2 separate regions of the Homo sapiens genome follow, and region 2 is linked to region 1. The links come from fine-mapping of genetic effects on gene expression. Tissue or cell type: whole blood. Region 1 holds a variant in brackets; the other region holds the start of a gene. All regions are shown on one strand. Distances are between the middles of the regions.

Evidence for each region. PIP is the estimated chance that this variant, and not a neighbour inherited with it, causes the effect.
Region 2: it holds the start of SIRPB2, and the variant in region 1 is fine-mapped to the expression of SIRPB2 in whole blood (TOPMed, PIP above 0.99).

The regions. Positions count from the first base shown.
Region 1 is chr20:1,429,963-1,435,169 of GRCh38, forward strand. No RefSeq gene overlaps it. Among named protein-coding and RNA genes, the nearest start is that of NSFL1C, 34 kb to the right of the region's middle. The variant C/T (reference allele first, on the strand shown) is at 2,486.
Region 2 is chr20:1,489,111-1,494,242 of GRCh38, forward strand. SIRPB2 (signal regulatory protein beta 2) reads right to left here and starts at 2,310. Exons shown (of 5, transcript NM_001122962.2): 1 at 2,165-2,310. The coding sequence starts at 2,249.

The sequences.
Region 1 (5,207 bases):
GGTGTTTTCTAGATTAGTATTTGAATCAGTGGATGGAGTAAAGAAGATCATCCTCCCCAGTGTGGGCAGACATCATGGATGAACTTCGGTGTTGAAGGCCCATTAAAATAGAACAAAAATGTGGAGGAAGTGCAAATTCTCTCTCTTTTTCAGCTGGATCACCTTCTCCTGCTCTCAGACAATGGAGCTCTTGGTTCTCAGGCTTTTGGACTCTAAGGCTTATATCAATAGCCTCCCACCCCCAGATTCTCAGACCTTAGGCCTTGGAGTGGGAGTTACACCACTGGCTTCCCTGATTCTCAGGCTCTCAGACTTCAACTGAATTACATCACCATCTTTCCTGGTTCTTCAGCTTGTAAATAGTATGTCATGGGACTTCTTGGCCTCTGTAATTGCATGAAACAATTCCCATAATAAATCTTCTCTATATGTATTGCATTGGTTCTGTTTCTCTGGAGAACTCTGACTAATATAATTCCTAAGAGTGGAATTTCTGGGTCATATGTAATTCTATGTTTAGCTTTTTGAGGAGCCACCAAATTGTTTTCCACAGCAACTTCCAACAGTGACAAGGGTTTCTTTTTTCTTTTATAGGTTCAGTATTCTTTATTATAAACAATCAGACAACAGTGTAAGTGTGCATTTGATGGATAACCGAAGCCAAGTTATTATAATAGAAAGCATGACTTCGCTCAAATAGAGTTTCTTTGTTGTTGTTGATCTGTTTTACATTAATTTGAATTTAACATATGCTAGGATCACCTAAATTTGTCATACAGTTCTGCTATTAAAATTGTAACAGGGAAAGACAAAATGTGAAATGCATGTTATATTTTGCTTTATTTGTTGAATATCTATCTATCTATCTACACTAAATATTTGGGACACATTCAGAGTTAAGCAGGTGCTTAAAGTCTATCAAGTGATATTTATAAAATGTTTTTGTTGCTGTTATGGGAACATCCATATCCTTAGAAGCCAATAAAAAAGAGGATTCTAAATGCTAGGTGGTTGGCTAAATGTTCCTGATTTATACTGAGTGTAAAACAAAATAAAACAAAACATAAGGTATATGTGTTAAGTAGTGACATCTACATAGTTCCAAAGCACTGGCAACTATTAAAATATCATCCAGCTAAAACAAACTTTTCACAATTTTTTTTAACAGAAAAATAATAAACCAACAACAAAAACTGGTAAATGTTCTGGGTCTTGTGAGCAGACCAAAATGTTACTACAGTGTTCTCTATTGTGTGATCCCAGTGTACAAGTTTCTATTTCTCCATATCCTTATCAACATTTGCTATTTTCCATGTTTTTGATTATAGTTATCCTAGCGGGTGTGAAGTGGTTTATCTCTTGCAGGTGTTAAGTGGTATCCCACTGTGGTTTTCATTTGCATTTCTTTAGTAACAAATGATGCTGAACATGCTTTCATGTGCTTATTGGCCATTTGTATGTCTTCTCTGGAGATATGTCTATTCAGGTTCTTTGCCTATTTCTTAATTTTTTTTTTTTTTTTTGTGGTTGAGTTTTAAGTGTTCTTTATATATTCTGGATACAAGTCCATTATTTGCAAATACTTTCTCTCATTTTGTGGGCTGTGTTTCTACTTTCTAGATAATATATTTTATTGTGCAAATGGTTTTACTTTTTATGAAGTCTAATTTATCCATTTCTTCCTTTTGTTGCTCATGCTTTTGGTGTCAAATCTAAGAATCCATTGCCAAGTCTGAGGTTATAAATATTTACTCCTATGTTTTTCTCTAAATAGTTTACCCCTATGTTTTCCTCTTGTATTTGGGTCATTGATCCATTTTGAGTTAATTTTTGTGTATGGAGTGAGGTACGGGTCCAGCTTCATTCTTTTGCCTGTGATTATGCAGTTGCCCCGGCACTGTTTGTTGAAGAGACTATTCTTTCCCCATTGAGTTGTGCTGAACACTTATTGAAAATCAATTAGCCATAGATATTTATTTCTAGGCTGTCAATTATATTCCACTGGTGTATATGTCTGTCCTTATGTCAGTACCACACTGGTTTGATTATAGAAGTTTGGAGCATGTTTGGAAATCTGGAAGCATGAGCCCTGAAACTTTGTGTTTCTTTTTCTTTCTTTTTTGGTGTGTTTCTTTTTCAATAGTATTTTGACTACTTGGGGTTCATTCCAGTTCCACATAAATTTGAGGATTAGTTTTTCTATTTCCTTAGGAAATGCCATTGGAATTTTGATAGGGGTTGCATTGAATCTGTGGATCATTTGCAATTAATATTCCAATACATCAACATGTGTTGTCTTCCATTTATTTAGGTCTTCTTTAATTTCTTTCAGCAATGTTTTGTAGTTTTCAGCATAGAAGTCTTTCTCCTTGGTTTAAGTATTTTACTCTTTTGGATGCTGTTATAAATGGAATTGTTACTTAATTTCATTTTCAGACTGTTCATTGCTGATGCATAGAAAATGGACTTTCGTGCACTGATCTTG[C/T]AATCTGCAACTATGTTGAATTTGTTTATTGGCTCTAGTAGTTGTGTGCATTTTGGTATTGTTATATTTTCTATACATAGAATTATTTCATCTTCAAATAGAGATAACTTTACTGCTTCCTTTCCAGTTTGGAGGCTGTTTATTGCTTTTTCTTGCCTAACTGCTCTGGCTAGGACTTCCAGTACAATATTTAATAGTAGTGGTAAAAATGGGCATTCTTGTCTTGTTCCTGCTCAGTGGGGAAGCTTCTGCTCTTTTACCATTGAGTATAATGTGAGTTGTGGGTTTTGTGTAAGTGACCTTTATCATGTTAAGGAAGTTCTCTGTATTCTGATTTGTTGGTGAGTGTTTGTATCCTGAAAGTGTTTGAAGTGTTGAATTTTGTTGCATGCATTTAATGTATCTATTGTGATATCATTTCCCTCTTTACAGAGTTGTGTTACATTGATGGATTTTTTTTTTTCTTATGTTGAGCCACCCTTGCATTTCTGGGAGAAATCCCACTTGGTCATGATCTATAATCCTTTGAATGTGCTACTGGATTTGGTTTGCTATTTTGTTGAGGATTTTTTGAGTCTATATTCATAAGATATACCGGACAGTCGTTTTGTCTGCCTTTGATATCAAGGTAACGGTGGACTCATAGAATCATACCTTTGATATCAAGGTAACGGTGGACTCATAGATATTCTGCATTTATATTTTTGTAATCACAATTTGTAAAGAATTCTCAAAATCCAACAGTAAGAAAACAAATAATCCAATAAACAAAAAGGCAAGGACTCTTTTTTTTTTTTTTTTTGGAGACGGAGTCTTGCACTCTCACCTAGGCTGGAGTGCAGTGGCACCATCTCGCCTCACTGCAAGCTCCGCCTCCTGGGTTCACGCCATTCTCCTGCCTCAGCCCTCCAAGTAGCTGGGACTACAGGCACCCGCCACCACGCCCGGCTAATTTTTTGTATTTTTAGTAGAGACGGGTTTTCACCATGTTAGCCAGGATGGTCTCGATCTCCTGACCTTGTGATCTGCCCACCTCAGCTTCCCAAAGTGCTGGGATTACAGGCATGAGCCACCATGCCTGGCCGGCAAGGACTCTTAAAAATGCTTTATCAAAAAGGATTTATGGGTGGCAAATGGCATATGAAAAGATGTTCAGCATCATTAGCATCACAAGACATGCTAATGTCAAAACCATGACAAGAGATAACTACACACCTATTAAAATGACTAAAATAAAAATGCTGACAATACCAAGTGTTGGTGAAGCTAAGTAGCACCCAAAAATCTCATATATTGCTGACAGGAATGTGCAGTGCAACAGCCACTCTGGGAAATGATTTGACAGTTTTAAATAAAGTTAAACATACACTTACCATATAACCCAGCCACCCCAGACCCTAGACATCTCTAGAGTATTCACCCTAGAGCAGAGGTCCCCAAAACCTAGGTCATGAACCAGTATCAGTCCATGGCCTGTTAGGAACCAGCCGCACAGAGGAGGTGAGAGGCTGGTGAGTGAGCAAAGCTTTATCTATATTTATAGCCTTGCCCCACTGCTTGCCACCTGAACTCCACCTCCTGTCAGATCAGATCAGCAGCAGCATTAGATTCTCATAGAAGTGCAAACCCTATTGTGAACTGTGCATGTAGGGGATCTAGACTGTGTGCTTCTCATGAGAATCTAATGCCTGATGATCTGTCGCTGTCTCCCAACACCCCAAGATGGGACCATCCAGTTGCAGGAAAACAAGCTCAGGGCTCCCACTGATTCTACATTACGGTGAATTGTATAATTATTTCATTATATATTACAATGTAATAACAATAGAAATAAAATGCACAATAAATGTAAATGTGCTTGAATCATCCCGAAACCATCCGCCCTACTCCCTAAGTCTGTGGAAAAATTGTCTTCCACGAAACCTGTCCCTGATGCCAAAAAGATTGGGGACTGCTGCCCTAGAGAAAGGAAAATTTTGTTCACAGAAAAACCTGTACATGAATGTTTATAGCAGCTCTATTTCTAATTGCCCCAAACTGGCAACAACCCAAATATCCTCTAATGGTTGAACAGATAGACAGATTGTTGCACATTCATATCATGGACTATTACTTGGCAATGAAAAAACAATGAACTTTCCATAAGCACAACATATGAAAATTGTTCCTCCAGATGAATCTCAGAGGAATTATGCTAAGAGGCCAGTCTCCAAAGGTTAAATGCTGTATGCTTCCATTTACATGATGTTCTGGAAAAGACAAAACCACAATGATGAAGAAGAGATCAGTGGCTGTCAGGGATTGGGTTTGAGGGGTAGTGTGACTATCAAGGCATTGCATGAGGGAGGTTCTGGGATGATGGAATTGTTTTGTGTCCTGATTGTAGTGGTGGTTACATGAATCTATACGTGTGCTGAAATCTGTATAATTATATACAACATAGTTAATTTTACTGTATGATAATTTTAAAAATTAAATGAATTAGAAAATGGTTAACAGTTAATACTCACTCATATGGCCAAATGTATAACAACTCTTATGAGGCAGCAGTCTGGCAGAACTTATTTTCTGGTCACAACCCTGCTGACCAAAACAGGATGTGGTCTACACAAAGTGAAGAAACCGCAGGAACCAGCAGATGGTGAGGAAAGTGATCCCTAGCTGCCCTCATTGCTCATTAGCATATGACACTCCCACAAGCACCATGACAGTTTACAAATGT
Region 2 (5,132 bases), 59 kb after region 1:
TAACTGTGTGATCCTTATTATATACAATTCTAGAAAATGCAAACTATAGTGACAGAATACAGATCCGTGGTTGTTTTGGAGACAAGGAGGAGTGGCAAGGACGAATCACAAGGAAACTTTTGGGCGCTGGATATGTTCATGATGCTGATTTTGGTGATGATTTCACAAGTGTGAAATACACCCAGCACTCACAAAAAAAACTTATCAAATTGTGTACTTTACATATGTACGGTTTAATATATGTCACTTACACTTCAATAGAGCTGTTAAAAATAAATTATTTGTAAAGATGAAGCCTGCGTGTGTGAGGAGAAAGAAGCAATGGAGGAGAGGAAGAAGGAAGCACTCAGAAAGTCTTATCTCAGCTAGGGGTGAGTCTGGGGAAGTGAACACCAGGGAAGAAGCTGGAGCCTGGACTCAGTCCTGGTGCCCACACCCCTTCCCTCCCTCTCCCCTTCTGAGTCCCCTTCTGTGTTGTCACTTGGGCTTTAGGAGGTGTCCTAGGAGGTTTGCCTCTGCCTTGTCAGTGGAGCTGGACCTTCTCATCTATTTTCCATCTGCATCCTCTGCCTTTCATGGTTCCTGTATGGGGCTCCCTTTAAAAGCCTTATAGAAAATGTGTTAGCCCCAGTCTCCTCTACTGCAAAATAGGGGCACTCATATTTTTCTCGGGGCTGCTGTGAGTATTAAATAGAGAAGTGGTGAGGCTCAATCCTGGGCCAGCTACGTAATTTGTGAGGCCAAGTGCAAAACGGGAATGCAGGTCCCTTGTTCAAAAACTATTGAGCAACACAGCAGAACATTAAACCAAGCATGGGGCCCTTCTAAGCAGGAGGCTCTGTGCCACTATATAGAGGGCACACCCAAGAACCAGCCCTGACTCAGCTTGAGATGCAGCTGGACTCAAACATTCCAACTGACTGGTTTAAGCAACTTCTCTTATTTTCCATCTATTCTATTGCAACAATCATTGGGAATATTTTTTATTCTGAGTAGTTTAGATTTCTGATTTCCTAGTCTAGTGCCTAAAACATAGCAGACACTCAAAAGTACCTGTGGAATGAGACCTAGCAATTATGATTCACATCTTAGAATTGAGGAAATCAGCTTAGAGAATTGAAGTGGTGTCTTGAGTCATACGGCCAATGAGTAAGGGAGCACCTAGGTCCGACCCCACACCTGGGTTCTGCCAGGATCTCTCCTGGGGATGGCCACCCCGGAGGACCAAAGATGTCATGGACAGAATCTAGATCTCAGTAGAGCCTGGAGCAGAGGCCCAGATGGGCAGGAGATGGAATGAGCCCACTGAGAGCCAAGTATCCCTGCCTGGTAGATCAGAGAGTTCTGGACTCAGAGGCTGAGCTATATATTCAGGGGTCTCAAGACTCTGGAGCTAACCTGGCCTGCCCCTGAGTTAGAGGAAACATGGGAATGATAATAATAATCGCCAAGAGTTATCAAATCTTTGTTATGCCAGGCACTTATGGGTATTATCTTGTTAAATTCTCCTAAGAAAGTCCCAAGGTGGGTCCTATTTTTAGCTCCATTTTACAGTTGGAAAAACTGAGGCTCAGAAAGAAATTACTTAAACTGGTTAGTGGTGAGGTTTGAGCCTACTGCGTCTTAAGCTGAGCCAGGGCTGGTTCATGGCTGTGCCATCTATGTAGTCGCACAGGGCCCTGTGCTTAGAAGGAGCCCATGCTTGGTTTACTGCTCTGCTGTGTTGCTCAATACTTTTTGAACAAAAGACCGCAGTTTTCATTTTGCAGTGGGTCTCATAAACTATGCAGCCGGCCCAGGGCTGAGCCTCACCACTTTTCTATTTAATACTCACAGTAGCCCTAGAGAAAGGTCCCATGAGCGTCCCTGTTTTGTAGAAGAGGCTCCTGGGGCTAAAAGAGCTGCAGCATCTGACGTGGGCATAGGAGCAATCAAGCTGGAAGCCAGTGGGTGTGAGCGCAGAGCCTGGGAGCTTATCACTTCACTACGCTGCTTCTTGGGACACTGGGGGTGCCCTCTGCCGGAGTCAGGCAAATTTTCAGTGGACCCCTCTTTACTCTATCTTCATGGGGTCAAGCTTCTTCAGGCATGGCAGAGCACTTAGTGCCCCTCTAGGGACTGACCAGCCGGGGGTGGACCCTGTTCTATCCTAGACCCCACTTACCTGAGGGGACAAGGACCAGTGCCAGCAGCAGGAAGCAGGGAGGCAAGTGGGCCAGGCAGGTGGGGGCCGACATCGTGGAGCACATGGCATCTTCTGTGGTCCCCAAGACTTGGGGCTCCTCTGCTCTCTTGTGAGTGTTGGAGTCTGAGGCGGGGCCCGTGGACAAGGCAGTTTCTGCGTCTCTTGGCCACAGCTGCTTGGGGAAGTGTTTTCATTGCAGCAACACAAGGCTGTTGGTGCAATAGGAAGGAGCCCGGTCAAAGGGTTTCCTGCTTTTGTGTCTGGGCTGTGATTCCTGTAGTCACTGTGCTAAAACCTTGCCATAGGCTCCATCCTAGGTGCCCGGGAGGGAGGTGGGCACTGAGGTCATAGGACGCACTCCAGAATCGGGTGGAATTTGGAGCAAACATTGGATCTTCCTCTTCTTGGCTGTGCAAGATTTCAAAGTCACTTCCCATTTCTGAGCCTTTTGTTTCTTCATCTGCAGCGTAGGAACAACGGCAGTTCCCTCCTCAGAACAGTTTTGGTAAGATTATGAGAAATAATGTGAGGGCACAGAACAATGTAAATGCTAAACATATTAACCATTATTATTCATGATGTGCAGAAAGTAGAGGAGGTGACATTGCTTAAGAAGAAGGATTTATTATAAAGCAAGCCCCATGGGGGCCTCCTTTTAGCACTGCAGGGAGGGTACAGGCCTAATTCCTAAAAGTATAATCATGTGTAACTCTCTCAGCCTCTGTTTCCTGGGGTCCAAGTGAAACATACTCAGATTGTGCAAACATTTGCGTTTGTGGCATCTTTGTTTCCTGTAAGTGATCTGAACTTCCTCAGGAGCCTCCTGGTGCTGGCTATCAAGAAGGAAAAGCTTAATCTTGCCAATTCATGCAATCCAGGCAATCTCTTTAGCCACACTGTCTGGGTTCAAATCTTGGCTTTACTCAGTCTGGCTGTGTGACCTTAGGACAATCATTTGACCACTTTATGCCTCGGTTTCCTCATCTGTAAAACAGGAATAAAAATGTGGTAGCATGTGTGGGGTGGAGTAAGCACTCTATAGGCTTTCACCATTGTCTTTTAGGTTAACTCAGTCTTTTAATTAACTCAGGGAAAAGTACAAGAACAACTCAGCCTTTCATTATTTCACTTCCTCCCTCATGCTTCAGAAGGTTCTGGGTGCAGAGGAAGCTGAAGATTCTCCAGCAACAGGGTGGCAGGCCTTGGATCTGAGTATGTCCCCTGGGTCCCAGAGGTCTGGTGTCTACTATGAGGAGGTTAGTCTGGCCTGGTCCCCAAGGACTTTGCACTGGGTCTGTGACTGGTCTTTTCTAGACTTTTGAGGCCTTGCATTGATACCCCTGCTCAATTCCATTACTCCCTCTACTTGTTCTCCTGTCAATGAGATCTATATAGTGAAACTTCTTTGAAAGGGCCACAAGCCTAGATGATTCCACCAGACCCTCAGTACTTTCCATGTCATTCTTACACGGGAATTTCTGAATCACCTGCTCATCTATGCAGATTTCTTTCTCAGCTATTGTTTTTTTCTAAAGTTTTACTTACAAATAATTTTATTTTAATAGGCAAGGCATTGTATTGGTTAGCTATTGCTGCATAACAAAGCACCCCAAAATTTAGAAGCTTAAAAACTAAATGTTCAGTTAATTTACTATTTTGTGGGTTGACAATTCAGTCAGGGCTCCATTTGGTGGTTCGGTCTTCTCATCTCAGCAGATTTTGGCTGGGAATGTTCATGCACTTGAGGTCAGCTGCAGGTTGGCTAGGTGGCTTTGTTACTGCGGTTGACTGATTGTTAACCCAGGTACCTCAGCTGTCCTCTATGTGGTCTCTCATCTTCCAGGACACTAACTTAGTCTTGTTCTCATGAAAGGGGCAGTTTTGAGAGACAGTGCAAGGTACAAGGAAACTTCTGCCATATTCTTTTGGCCACATCAAGTTACAAGACCAGACAAGATTCAAGGAATGGAAAATAGACTTTGCCTCTTGTTAGGGAACTGCAAAGCCTAATTGCAAAAGGTGTGGATACAAAGAGGGGGTATAGAATTGTGGATATTTTTGTGATTTATCTGCCATGGGCATCTACAGGTACAAAATTCAGAGGTCTCAGTGTCTCATTTATAGGGCTCCCAGACATTACTTTCCTTAGGGTTAACCACAGTCACCAGTTTTTGAAGACATTCATTTCCTTTACTGTTTCTGATCTAGTGCTCAGAAGCCAGGTTGAATATGGTTTCTTTGTGATGTCGTGGACTATGAACACCCTGGGAAGACAGGCCATGATCCCTTATGCTGTAGGAATCCCTAAACTCCATTCCCACCCCACCCCAGCATTTGGACCTCAGGACTGTGGGGTTGGCAGGACTCTAGCATCTCAACCCCTGTCTTCTCCCTCTTTTTCTTACTTCCTCACCAAGTCATAAGGGGAGGAGTTCCCCTTCTTTTCCTTCTGGTAGGGACTTTCCTAATCTCAGTCTTCTTCCTAACAGCTGGCCTTCTTTGTTCTAGATGGAATCCCTCCTGCCCCTTCCTCAAGACAGCAAGTCTCACACTCCAGCTTAGAATAGGAAAAAAGCTTCCAGGGAAGGAATTAAACTGCTGGGAGGTGGAGAAATGCAAAAGGAAATAGTTAAAAATGTTATATCTGTCACGTCATCTATAAAACACATGAAATGCGATTGCGCGTGAAGCACTGGCTTGCGATAATTGCTCAGTAACTAGGAACAGTGGCATTCCTCCTGGTCAGTGTGCTTGGGTATCACATGAACTATAGTGTCTATTACTAGCCTGAGTTAAGTTATCCTCAACAAGAGCACCCGAGGTATATATAGAACACAAGTCTACCCATAAAGCTTTTTTTCCTTCCACTACAAAAATGGAACTTTGTTAAAACAACAGCTTTTTGATTGTTTACCATAAAATGGAAAACATACTAAGCAAGCACAGG